Homo sapiens: one gene and its partners. The protein of the gene in region 1 interacts with the protein of each later gene in a pairwise test. Each region holds a gene or a part of one and is shown in the gene's direction. Other genes may lie near its edges. The genes, in order: ZNF526, THAP12 and ZNF524.

Evidence for each region.
Region 2: the proteins of ZNF526 (region 1) and THAP12 interact in binary tests that used the Homo sapiens proteins (3 or more experiments, as listed by UniProt).
Region 3: the proteins of ZNF526 (region 1) and ZNF524 interact in binary tests that used the Homo sapiens proteins (3 or more experiments, as listed by UniProt).

What each region holds. Positions count from the first base shown.
Region 1 is NC_000019.10:42,223,274-42,227,023, forward strand, and holds part of ZNF526 (zinc finger protein 526), read left to right. Parts: intron 1-941; 5' UTR 942-1,032; intron 1,033-1,113; 5' UTR 1,114-1,130; coding exon 1,131-3,143; 3' UTR 3,144-3,750. UniProt on the Homo sapiens protein: May be involved in transcriptional regulation.
Region 2 is NC_000011.10:76,374,437-76,378,186, reverse strand, and holds part of THAP12 (52 kDa repressor of the inhibitor of the protein kinase), read left to right. Parts: intron 1-3,750. UniProt on the Homo sapiens protein: Upstream regulator of interferon-induced serine/threonine protein kinase R (PKR). May block the PKR-inhibitory function of DNAJC3, resulting in restoration of kinase activity and suppression of cell growth.
Region 3 is NC_000019.10:55,598,287-55,602,036, forward strand, and holds the start of ZNF524 (zinc finger protein 524), read left to right. Parts: upstream 1-2,001; 5' UTR 2,002-2,122; intron 2,123-3,750.

The sequences.
Region 1 (3,750 bases):
CGAGGCAGGCGGATCACGAGGGCAAGAGATCGAGACCATCTTGGCCAACATGGTGAAACCCCATCTCTACTAAAAATACAAAAATTGGCCGGGCGTGGTGGCTCATGCCTGTAATCCCAGCACTTTGGGACGCCCAGGCGGGCAGATCACGAGGTCAGGAGATTGAGATTGTCCTGGCTAACACGGTGAAACCCTGTCTCTACTAAAAATACAAAAAATTAGCCGGGCGTGGTTGCAGGCGCCTGTAGTCCCAGCTACTCGGGAGGCTGAGCCAGGAGAATGGCCTGAACCTGGGAGGCAGAGCTTGCAGTGAGCAGAGATTGCACCACTGCACTCCAGCCTGGGCGACAGAGCGAGCCTCCATCTCAACAATAACAACAAAAAAATACAAAAATTAGCTGGGCATGGTGGCGCACACTTGTAGTCCCAGCTACTCGGGAGGCTGAGACAGGAGAATCACTTGAACCTAGGAGGTGGAGGTTGTAGTGAGCCGAGATTGCGCCACTGTACTCTAGCCTGGCAACAGAGCAAGAGTCCATCTCAAAAAAAAAAAAAAAAAAAAAAAGAGGCCGGGCTGTTGGCCGGGGTGGTGGCTCACATCTGTAATCCCAGCACTTTGGGAGGCCAAGGCGGGTGGATCACCTGAGGTCAGGAGTTCAAGACCAGCCTGGCCAACATGGTGAAACCTTGTCTCTACTAAAATATATATATATATATATATATATATATACAAAAATTAGCCAGGCATGGTGGCACACCCCTGTAGTCCCGGCCACTCAGGAGGCTGAGGCACGAGAATAGCTTGAACCCAGGAGCGAGAGGTTGCAGTGAGCCAAGATTGTGCCACTGCACTCCAGCTTGGGTGACAGACCAAGTCTCTGTCTCAGAAGAAAAAAAAAAAAAAAAAAGAGGCTGGGCTGAGTGGTGTTTCTCTCCTGCAGGCTGCCGTGGGGTGTGTGTAGGCTTCAGAGACATGGGATCACGGAAGACTGAAGCAGAAACAGTGGATTAAGACTTCCTGAGCGATAGCTGGTGAGTAGTGGGATGTGCAAGAGAATTCCACCTCCCCTTGGTTTCCTGCTGTCTCACTGGCTCCTGCCCCTCTTTCTCCAGGCACTGCCTTCCCCACAATGGCAGAGGTGGTGGCTGAGGTGGCCGAGATGCCAACACAGATGTCACCAGGGGCAGTGGAGATGTCAACACCTATGTCGGCAGAGATGATGGAGATGTCAACAGAAGTGACTGAGATGACACCTGGGGAGGCCCTTGCCTCATCCCTCTTCTTCCAGCATCACCAGTTCATGTGCTCTGAGTGTGGCAGCCTCTATAACACACTGGAGGAAGTCCTCTCACACCAGGAGCAGCACATGCTTGCTGTCTCAGAGGAGGAGGCACTGACCACACAGAATGTTGGCCTGGAGCCGGAGCTGGTGCCGGGTGCTGAGGGGCCCTTCCAGTGTGGTGAATGCAGCCAGCTCATCCTCTCCCCTGGGGAGCTCCTGGCCCACCAGGATGCCCACCTCCGAGAGTCTGCAAACCAGATCCAATACCAGTGCTGGGACTGCCAGGAGCTGTTCCCCTCGCCCGAGCTGTGGGTGGCTCATCGAAAGGCCCAGCACCTTTCTGCTACGGTAGCTGAGCCACCAGTGCCACCTCCTTTGCCTCCCCCAACACCACTGCCTCCACCTTCTCCCCCATCCGAAGTCAAGATGGAGCCCTATGAGTGTCCTGAGTGCTCTACCCTCTGCGCCACCCCTGAGGAGTTCTTGGAGCATCAGGGCACCCACTTTGACTCCCTAGAGAAAGAGGAGCGCAATGGGTTGGAGGAGGAGGAAGAGGACGATGAGGAGGATGAAGAAGATGATGAAGAGATGGAGGATGAGGAGGCCATGGCAGAGGTCGGTGATGATGCTGTGGGAGGTGACGAGTCCACAGCTGGCTGGGCTCAGGGCTGCGGGGACTGTCCCCAGCACCAGCCCTCAGCAGGGGCTCGCCGGCAACACCGGCGGACGGCTCACAGCCCGGCATCTGCCACCCACCCCTTCCACTGCAGCCAGTGTCAGCGCAGTTTCAGCTCCGCCAACCGGCTGCAGGCTCATGGGCGGGCCCATGTTGGTGGCACACATGAGTGTACAACCTGCTCCAAGGTCTTCAAGAAAGCAGCATCGCTTGAGCAGCACTTGCGGCTGCATCGCGGGGAAGCCCGCTACCTCTGTGTAGACTGTGGCCGCGGCTTTGGCACAGAACTCACGTTGGTGGCTCACCGGCGGGCCCACACTGCCAACCCATTGCATCGCTGTCGTTGCGGCAAGACGTTCAGCAACATGACCAAGTTCCTCTACCACCGGCGCACTCACGCCGGCAAAAGCGGGGCACCTCCCACAGGAGCAACAGCTCCCCCAGCTCCAGCGGAGCCCACCCCTCCACCACCACCCCCTGCCCCACCTGCCCAGCTGCCCTGCCCACAGTGCTCCAAGTCCTTTGCCTCAGCTTCCCGGCTGTCCCGGCACCGGCGTGCAGTACACGGGCCCCCTGAACGGCGTCACCGCTGTGGGGTTTGTGGCAAGGGCTTCAAGAAGCTGATCCACGTGCGCAACCACCTGCGGACACACACGGGTGAGAGGCCCTTCCAGTGCCACTCATGTGGCAAGACCTTTGCTTCTTTGGCCAACCTCAGCCGCCACCAGCTGACCCATACGGGTGCACGTCCCTACCAATGCCTGGACTGTGGCAAGCGCTTCACACAGAGCTCCAACCTGCAGCAGCACCGGCGGTTGCACTTGCGGCCAGTCGCCTTTGCCCGCGCCCCCCGCCTCCCCATCACTGGTCTCTACAACAAGAGTCCCTACTACTGCGGGACTTGTGGCCGCTGGTTCCGCGCCATGGCGGGCTTGCGACTGCATCAGCGGGTCCATGCCCGAGCTCGGACTTTGACGCTACAGCCTCCCAGATCACCATCTCCTGCCCCACCCCCACCTCCAGAGCCTCAACAGACTATCATGTGCACAGAGCTGGGGGAGACCATCGCCATCATTGAGACATCCCAGCCACTGGCGCTTGAGGACACCCTGCAGCTGTGCCAGGCTGCACTGGGGGCCAGTGAAGCAGGCGGGCTCTTGCAGTTGGACACGGCCTTCGTGTGACGCAGCTGAAAAGCAACAACAAAAGGGTTTGGTTGCAACAGCCAGTGTGGGTACCTCTGGGGAGAGAGGACCTCCTCTGACAAACTGGTCTGGTACCCACCATGTGCCAGGATCCACCCTGGCCTCTTTTTACCCACTGACTCCCCAGAACAACCCTTCCAGGCTTCTCTTGTCATCTTTCTCTGCCTGAGGGGAAACTGAAGCTCTGAAATGCGATGTGATCTGTACCAGGTCACCCAGCTATGCTGCAAAGTGGGTTGGCCAAGGCCCTTTGCACTGCATCACCCTGGTGCCCAGCAACATCAGGTAACCTTCACTGAGCACCAAGCTTATGCCAGGTCTGTGCTGGCCACTCTCATATACCTCTTCAGATCCTCTGCTTGTACCCCCAGCCCTTGCCTTCCCTGGATTTTGGGCACCCAGGACTTTGCTCTGCCTGGTGGAGGGTACTTGATTTCTCTGGGCTTCCTTCATCTCAATTCTGACAGTGTGGAAGGAAATCTGTAGGTACCCAGGTCCTCAGCTCCAGACTGGGTGATGCTGGAGACCCAGGAGCAAGTCAGCACAGGCTCTGCCCACAGGAGGCATGCACAATCTGGTAGGAGAA
Region 2 (3,750 bases), on another chromosome or scaffold:
TTGGCCTCCCAAAGTGCTGGGATTACAGGTGTAAGCCACCGTGCTTGGCTGGCACCACATTCTTAGATATGACACCAAAATACATGCAGTAAAAAGAAAAATAGACTAATTGGACTTCATCAAAATTAAACTTTTGTGTATCAAAGAACATTACCAAGAAAGTGAAAAGAATGGAAGAAGGTACTTGCAAATAATACATTTGATCTGGGTCCAGTATCCAGAATATATAAAGAACTCTTACAATTCAGCAACAAAAAGACAACCCAATTTTAAAATAGGCAAAGGACTTCTTTCTTTAAACAGAAGATATAAATGGCTAAAAAGCACATGAAAAGATGCTGAGCATCACTCGTTATTAGAGAAGTTCAAATCAAAACCACAAGTGGCAGTTAGATGTAGAATTACTGTGTGTCCCAGCAATTCCATTCCTAGGCGTATATCCAAAGAATTGCAAACTGATATTCAAAAAAACCAAATGTACACACATTCATAGCAGCACTATTCGCAATAGTCAAAAGGTAGAAACAAGCCACGTTTATCAGTGCTTGAATGGATAAACAAAATGTATATCAATACAATGAAATATTAGCCATGAAAAGGAATGAAGTGCCAGTACATACTACAGTATGGGTGAACCTCAGAAACATTATGCTAAGTGAAAGAAGTCAGATACAAAAGCTTATATGTTGTATGATTCTATTATATTAAATATCCAGAATAAGTAAATCCATAGAGATAGAAAGCATATCAGTGGTTGCCTGGGGCTGGGCGAAAGGGAGAGTGGGGAGCAACTGATTAATGGTTACAAGGTTTCCTTTTGAGGTGATGAAAATGTTTTAGAATTAGGTAGTGGTGATGGTTGCAGAACATGATGAATGTGTTAATTGCCATTAGTTTTTTACTTTAAAATGGTTAGTTTTATGTTATGAGAATTTCACCTCAAAGAAAATAGATGTCTTGAAGAGAGAATAGGATATACAAGTCTGAAATTCAGAGACTTTCAAACCGGAAATTGTAAATATGGGTGTTCTCAGTTTATAGAGGGTATTTAAAACCGTGGTACGGGTTAAGGTTATCTAAGGAGTGAGCAAAGAACAGATCTGAGGATTGAGTCCTGGGGCATTCCCAGTGTTTTAAGTTCCGAGACATGGGAAAGAACTCGCTCAGTACAGTGAGGAGTAGCAGTTGGGAACAGAGGAGAGGAGCATCTTAGTCTGACTTGGCCTTGCCCCATTATGCGTTATCTTCCTTTTACCCAAATTTTAGCCCAAAGACATTCTTACAGGTTTATTTCACTTCCATAATGAGGGCACCCCTAGTCAGTTCTGGACCACAGGTCATTTGTATTAATATGTAGTGAATCCTGTTTTGACTACACTCCTTAAGGGGAGTATAGTCTATAGGGGTTTACAGTTTCAGATTTGAAAGAAGTGTTTAGATCTAGTGAAATCTCACTTGAAATACTGGAATTTTCTCAATAATAGTGACTTTTATCATTTTTAGGGTTATTATCCCTTTTGAGAATCTAGCATAAGGACTCTTACCTGAAAAAAAAAAAAAAACAAAAAAAACATAGACACAATTTAGCATTCGAAGACAAAGATGTTTATGGGCCTTTATAGGCCCTGTGCATTCCTGACAGATGGGCATCTTTGCCCTTGCTAAAACACCTCTAATGATAGTCCTCCCCTTTGTGAGAAGACACGTGATGATTCTGGACGCTTTGGCTGTTGTTTCTTCCTTGTATTGAGTGGACATCTGCCTCCTGTAATTGAGGCCTTGGAGGTCCTAGTTTTGTTCCCAGGATCACACGAAGTCTCTGCCCTTTTCAACGTTAGACTCCTTTGAATGCTTCAAGACCAAATCATGAATTTCTTTTTAAAAAGATGTTTATTGAGATGCAATTCACATATAATTCACCCATGTAAAGTGTACGATTTGGGGTATATACATTAATTTTTAAAATTTTGGTAAAATACAACAGAATTTGCTAATTTAACCTTTAAGTGTGCAATTCAGTGGCGTTAATTACATTCACAGTGTTGTGCAACCTTCTCCACTATTTTCAAAACTTTTTCATTTATCCCAAACAAAAACTGTAACCATTAGGCAATAACCTCCCATTCCCCTGCCCTTCCAGCCTTTGGTAACCTCGAATCCACTTTCGGTCTTTATAAATTTGCCTGTTCTAGATTCCTCATATTGGTGGAATCATACAATATTTCTCCTTTTATGTCTGGCTTGTTTAACTTAATATGTTCAAGGTCTTTTTATCCAAATCAAACCTCCTCGTACTACATGATTTTAAGTTCTACTGTATTTGATAGTTTCCATTTCACTGTGCCCAGTGTTATTTATAACAAAGAAGTAGTTTCCAGAGGTGTTATTGAATTAATAACAGTATTTTTAGGGTTATTAGTTCTAACCCACCCCCCCCCCACCTTTTCTTCTATAAACAGGTTGTAGGGAAGGTTGATAAAAGGTGACATTGCCAGTCTAGTCTTCAAATGCTAACATTGTTAACAAACAATAAAGATGAATATATTTAATGCTATTAAAACAGTACATTTCCCAGTCATCAGTTATAAATTCCATGCATGCTTTTAGAAACAGCTATTTAGAAATAATTTAAACTTCAAGAGTGTAATTAATAAAGTGTATGGTGTGGAATCACATACCATAATAGTTCTTATTGTTTTAGAAAACGTGGCATTAATATGCTTCTTTTTTAAAAAAGTGAAATAATCAACCCAGCTTAGGTCAGTGACACGGTTTAAGTAAAAAAAAAAAAAAAAAGCCTAAGTCTTGATTGCCCCAGGGTGGCTTGCCTAATGCCAAGGCTTGCCACTGTGAGGCAGCTCACAGTGGAGCTCTTCCTAAACCAGGAGATGGTACAGGTAGAGCTAATGAATTGCTCTGATTAGAGTGAGATGGGCGTTGAAGCTCTCTTCTTCCTCCTCAGGCAGCTAGTACTAACTCACCCAAGATGGGTGAGGGCTTCCAAGGTTCTTCTGGCAATTTAATGAAGGCTGATTGAGAGCTGGTGTGCTCTACTTTGTGAAATGTAAAACAGTGGTTTTCTGGGGACTCGTGAGGGTGCCTGTTTGGGCTGTTATAACAAAATACCTTAGACTAGGTGATTTTTAAACAACAGAAATTTATTTCTCATAGTTCTGGAAGCTGGGAAGTCCAAGATAAAGTCACCAGCAGATTTGGCATCTGGTGAGGGCTCACTCTTGGCTTCTTAGATGGTGCCTTCTTGTTGTGTTCTCACATGGCGGAAGGGGCAAATAAGGCTTCCCCGTCATGACCTAAGTCATCTCCCAGATGCCCCACCTCCCAACACCACTGCACTGGGGATTGTTTCAATATGAATTTTGAGGGGATGCAGACATTCAGACCATAGCAATCCCCAAGATCCTTTCAGGGAGTCCACAATGTCAGAACTATTTTCATAATAACACTGATATTATTTGCATTTTTCATATTTGGTCTCTCAGGAGTGGACAGTGGAATTTTTGGGTTGCTACATAACATGATGGCATCATTGCTTTGATAAATTTTGTGTTGTGTTTTCTAGAATTTTCTAAATATTATTCAGATCTGAGTGTTCAGTAGACATTTTCTCAGAAATAAACAAGCCTGCCACTTCAAGGAGAACAACTGATAATTTGAGCATTCAAGTTGAAAATTAGAATTTTGGAAAATTTATGTGCCACTGTGAGCTTGACAGCTCTCTAATACTTAAAG
Region 3 (3,750 bases), about 13 Mb from region 1:
TTTGCCAAGCCCTTTTCCTTCCAAAAGGCCCTCCCACTCCCCTCTAAGCTCCTCCCACTCCTCTTCCAGGATGACCACTTAGCGAATGGGAGGGCAAAGATTTGGGGCTAAGCACACTGGAGTCATCCTTGCAGGGAGACCAGAATTACTCCTGTAACATCAGATAATAAAAATTCTTCATCTGTAAAATGGGAATAGTAGTACCTACCTCATGGAGTGGTGGCGAGAATTAAGTAAAATTGTGGCAATAAATGCTACGTGCCCACTTAAGCTGGTGCACAGCAAAGACGCAACAAGTAAGCTGTTTGGATGACTATTATCCCGTAAGTTCCTCCTGGATTCCTCCTTAAGTCCTACCATGATTGCTAAGTTATTTGACTTATCTAAGCCCCTCTCGGGTCCACTAAGACCCACTTCCAAAACTCCACCCAATTTTTCCTTTAAAGAAGCCACATCCTTTCTAAGACTCTCCACTGGACTCCCGTCACCTTCTCAGGCCTTCTCTACGAAGTCTATTCCCATCCCCTGCAAGTCCTTTCCACATTCATTATAAAGACCTGATAGTTGCATTAAACCCCTCCAAATTACACCCTTAAACTCCACCCCCCTCACTAGGCCTACCTACTTCTCTAAGCCACACCCCAGACAAACTCCATCCCTTCTACTCTAAACTCCTCCCTCCTGCTTCCTGGGCTCCCTTTACCCAACCAGCCTCAATGAGTTTCCTTCCACCCCTCAATCCAGGGCCTACCCACCATTCCTTCTGAGCCACGCCCCTTTATCAAACCCCACCTCTTTGCCTAAGACCCTCCCATTTTCTATCCAGACTCTCCCTCCTCCACGCCCCTCCCACTTCCACTCTAAGCTCCGCCCAACTCAGGCTCCTCCCAGCCCTTGCTCCGCCCCAGCAGCCACTAGGCCCCGCCTCCTCCTCCACCCCGCAGCCTGAGGAGCGGGCCCCCCCACTTGCCCAGTCTGCTCCAGGCCCCAGGCCCCGAGAGCCGGCCTTTTGTGCCCCTCCCCCTGCCCCTAAAAGGTGCAGCCCTGGGCGCCCGGTTGGGGGGCAGGTCGGGCAGGCCCCGGGGCCAGGCGAGTCCACCTCGCTCGTACGGAGCGTTGGTCCTGGAGACCCGGGGCGGCCCCGGGAGGCCGGGGAAGTCCGTCGGCTTTCCTCTTTAATTACTTACACCTCCCTCTGGGCGCCGACATTTTGGGCAGCGGGGGCAGCGTCACTTCCACCCGGGGGGCCCCTCGACTTCCGCCTCAGCTCCCTTCCCCCGCCGTACTCCCCCTTTCTCCCGCCCTCTTGGCTCCCCTTCCTCATCCCCGCCCTTCTCCCTCTTTCCCTTTCCTTTCCCAGCCCTGGAGGTTGAAGAAGCCAGGCCCGCGCCATCTTGGGTGAGGGCAGCGGGAAGGGGCGGGGCTTAGGGACACCCACGGCGCCATACAGACTAAGGGCAAGGAGCTGAGAGCGAGGGGGCTTCTCCGTGGCGACACTAGGCGATGCTAACGTAAATGAGAGCAGATACTATTTCTTTTTCACAGCCTCGGACTCCTCCGATTAGGATGTACAGTTGGACTAGGGAAAAAAAAAGAAAGCGAAGTGCGCCAACTGCAATACAGAGCTGGAAAAGACCGGCACCATCTTATCCACTTAGCACTCCATGGGCTTCGAAGCCTGTCCGGTGCCATGTTAATTACGGGCACTGGGCAGCCATTTTCCCGCTCCTCATCATTCGGTATCTGTCTTTGGGTCACCCGACTGTGGGCTTTGTGAGAGGAAAGGCGTTTCGAGGTGGTTGGGGATGTGGTGCTGGGTTATTTCCCACTGGGGACACACCAGGGCCGCCGGTGCGCAGGCGCGGCTTCCGGGCGTGGCCGCGACCGGTCGTTAGGACCCAGCGAGTCCCCTTTGTTTCCCGCGGGCGCGCAGGCGGGCGGGAAGGGCAGGAAGGGAGGGGCCCGGCGCTTCTCCGAGGGGCGGGGCCGGCACCGCGCGCCGCCGCCCCCGCCTCGCCGCCGCCGAGGGGCAGGGCCCCCTCACCCCCTCCCCTTCCCACGCGCCGGCCCCGTTGCCCCCGCGCGCGCGCACACTCGCGAGCCCCGGCGACATGCAAATGAGGTACCCGAGAGGCGGGGGGCGCAGGCGGGAGGGGGGGTGTGGGGGTAGGGGAGGCCGGGCCGCGCGCTCCCGGAGCGCGCCTCCAACACCTGTTCCTGCTCCCGCGCTCGCGCCCCGCGAAGCCGTCCGGGCGCGCGCGCGCAGACCCCCTTCCTGGCAGCCCCCGCCGCCCGCTTACCCGGCGCCGCTCATTGGCCGTCGCCCCCGCAGGGCCCGCCCCGCGCTTGGGCTTCGCAGCTCGGGGGCCGATGGGCGCGTCAGTACCGGGGCGAGGGGACGGGGAGGGTCGGGGGACCAGTCTCCCCCTTTCCACCGTTCCAAAGACCAGACTCCTAGACTAGGCTACCCCGTGGGAGCGAACCGTATGGAAAGGTGGTTGCTCCTCTCTGGACAGCAGTCTATGTGGCTGTTAAAGGGGAGGGGGGGGTGCAGGGGGGCACCTGCAGCACCTGCTTCCAGCTGCACCTGTGCCTCCCCTTCCCCTCCGTTACACCCCAATCCCATGCTCCCAGTATCTGAGTGGGCGCCGGGAAGATGGTGGTGGCGTTGGTGAAGTTTATTGAGTGCTTACTGTGCACCAGGCAGTGTTCGAGGGGCATTTTAAAGCCCACTGTCTTATTCGATTCTCCTGACAACCCTGGTTTATTCACTTTTCAGAGGAGGAAACTGGCAAAGTCAATTGCTAGTTATAGGCAGAGCTGAATTCAAACCCAGGACTGAGCCCTCGTAATGTCCCCTTTCCTCCTTGGGTTTATTTGTTCTCCATTCTCTGGGACATTCGGGTCACAAGACCTGTTTCCAGTTTTGGCCCTGCCATTTACTGGCAGAGGAACTTAGGCAACTGACTTGGCTTTCCTGTGCCTCAGTTTCCCCATCTGCAAAATGGGACAGATATGCCCTATTCAGAGGGTTGATGTGAGGCTTAGCTGCTCCTGATAACAATGGCTAATGTGTCCTGAAAGCTTCTGTGTATGAACACTTTGTGGGTATTATGCTCATGGCATGTCTGGGCAAGTACGTAGAACTATGTGTCCCATTTTGCAAAAGTCTTGATTAAGGCTTAGAGAAGCGAACACCTTGCCCAAGGCCACGCAGAGAGTAAAGATTTGAACGAATGATGTCTTGACTCCAGGGCCCAGGCTCTTAACATCGCAGATATGTTTCCTCATCCAGGAATCAGGGTCAAATATCACCTGGGACCAGTCCCTTTTTTCCACTCTGGAACCCCTTCCCCACTTCTGCCAGTCAGCAGGGAGGGATGAGAGCATTCGTGAGGCCTCTATGGCTCTGGAGTTTGATGGGCTCTCCGTTTCAAGGATCACAATACTGGTCTGCACTCTCAGTTGGACTCTATCCTCTCTGGAAGGTTTTTTTTTGTGGGGAGGTGGGGAGGGGTGTTGCTCATGTTGATCTTGAACTTCTAGATCCAGAAGGAGAGTTAGGGAGGCATAGGGATGTCTGGTGGAGCTCAGGGAAGTGCCTGTTTATCAGCTGATACAAGATCATCTCACTGTTTTACCCACCAGCATAGCTAAAATTGTGTATCTGGATGAATGTCAAACACACCTTTGTCAAGAGACTTGGAGAGAGGGATGGGCGAGGTGTTGGGGGACACAGGGGTGCTCTAG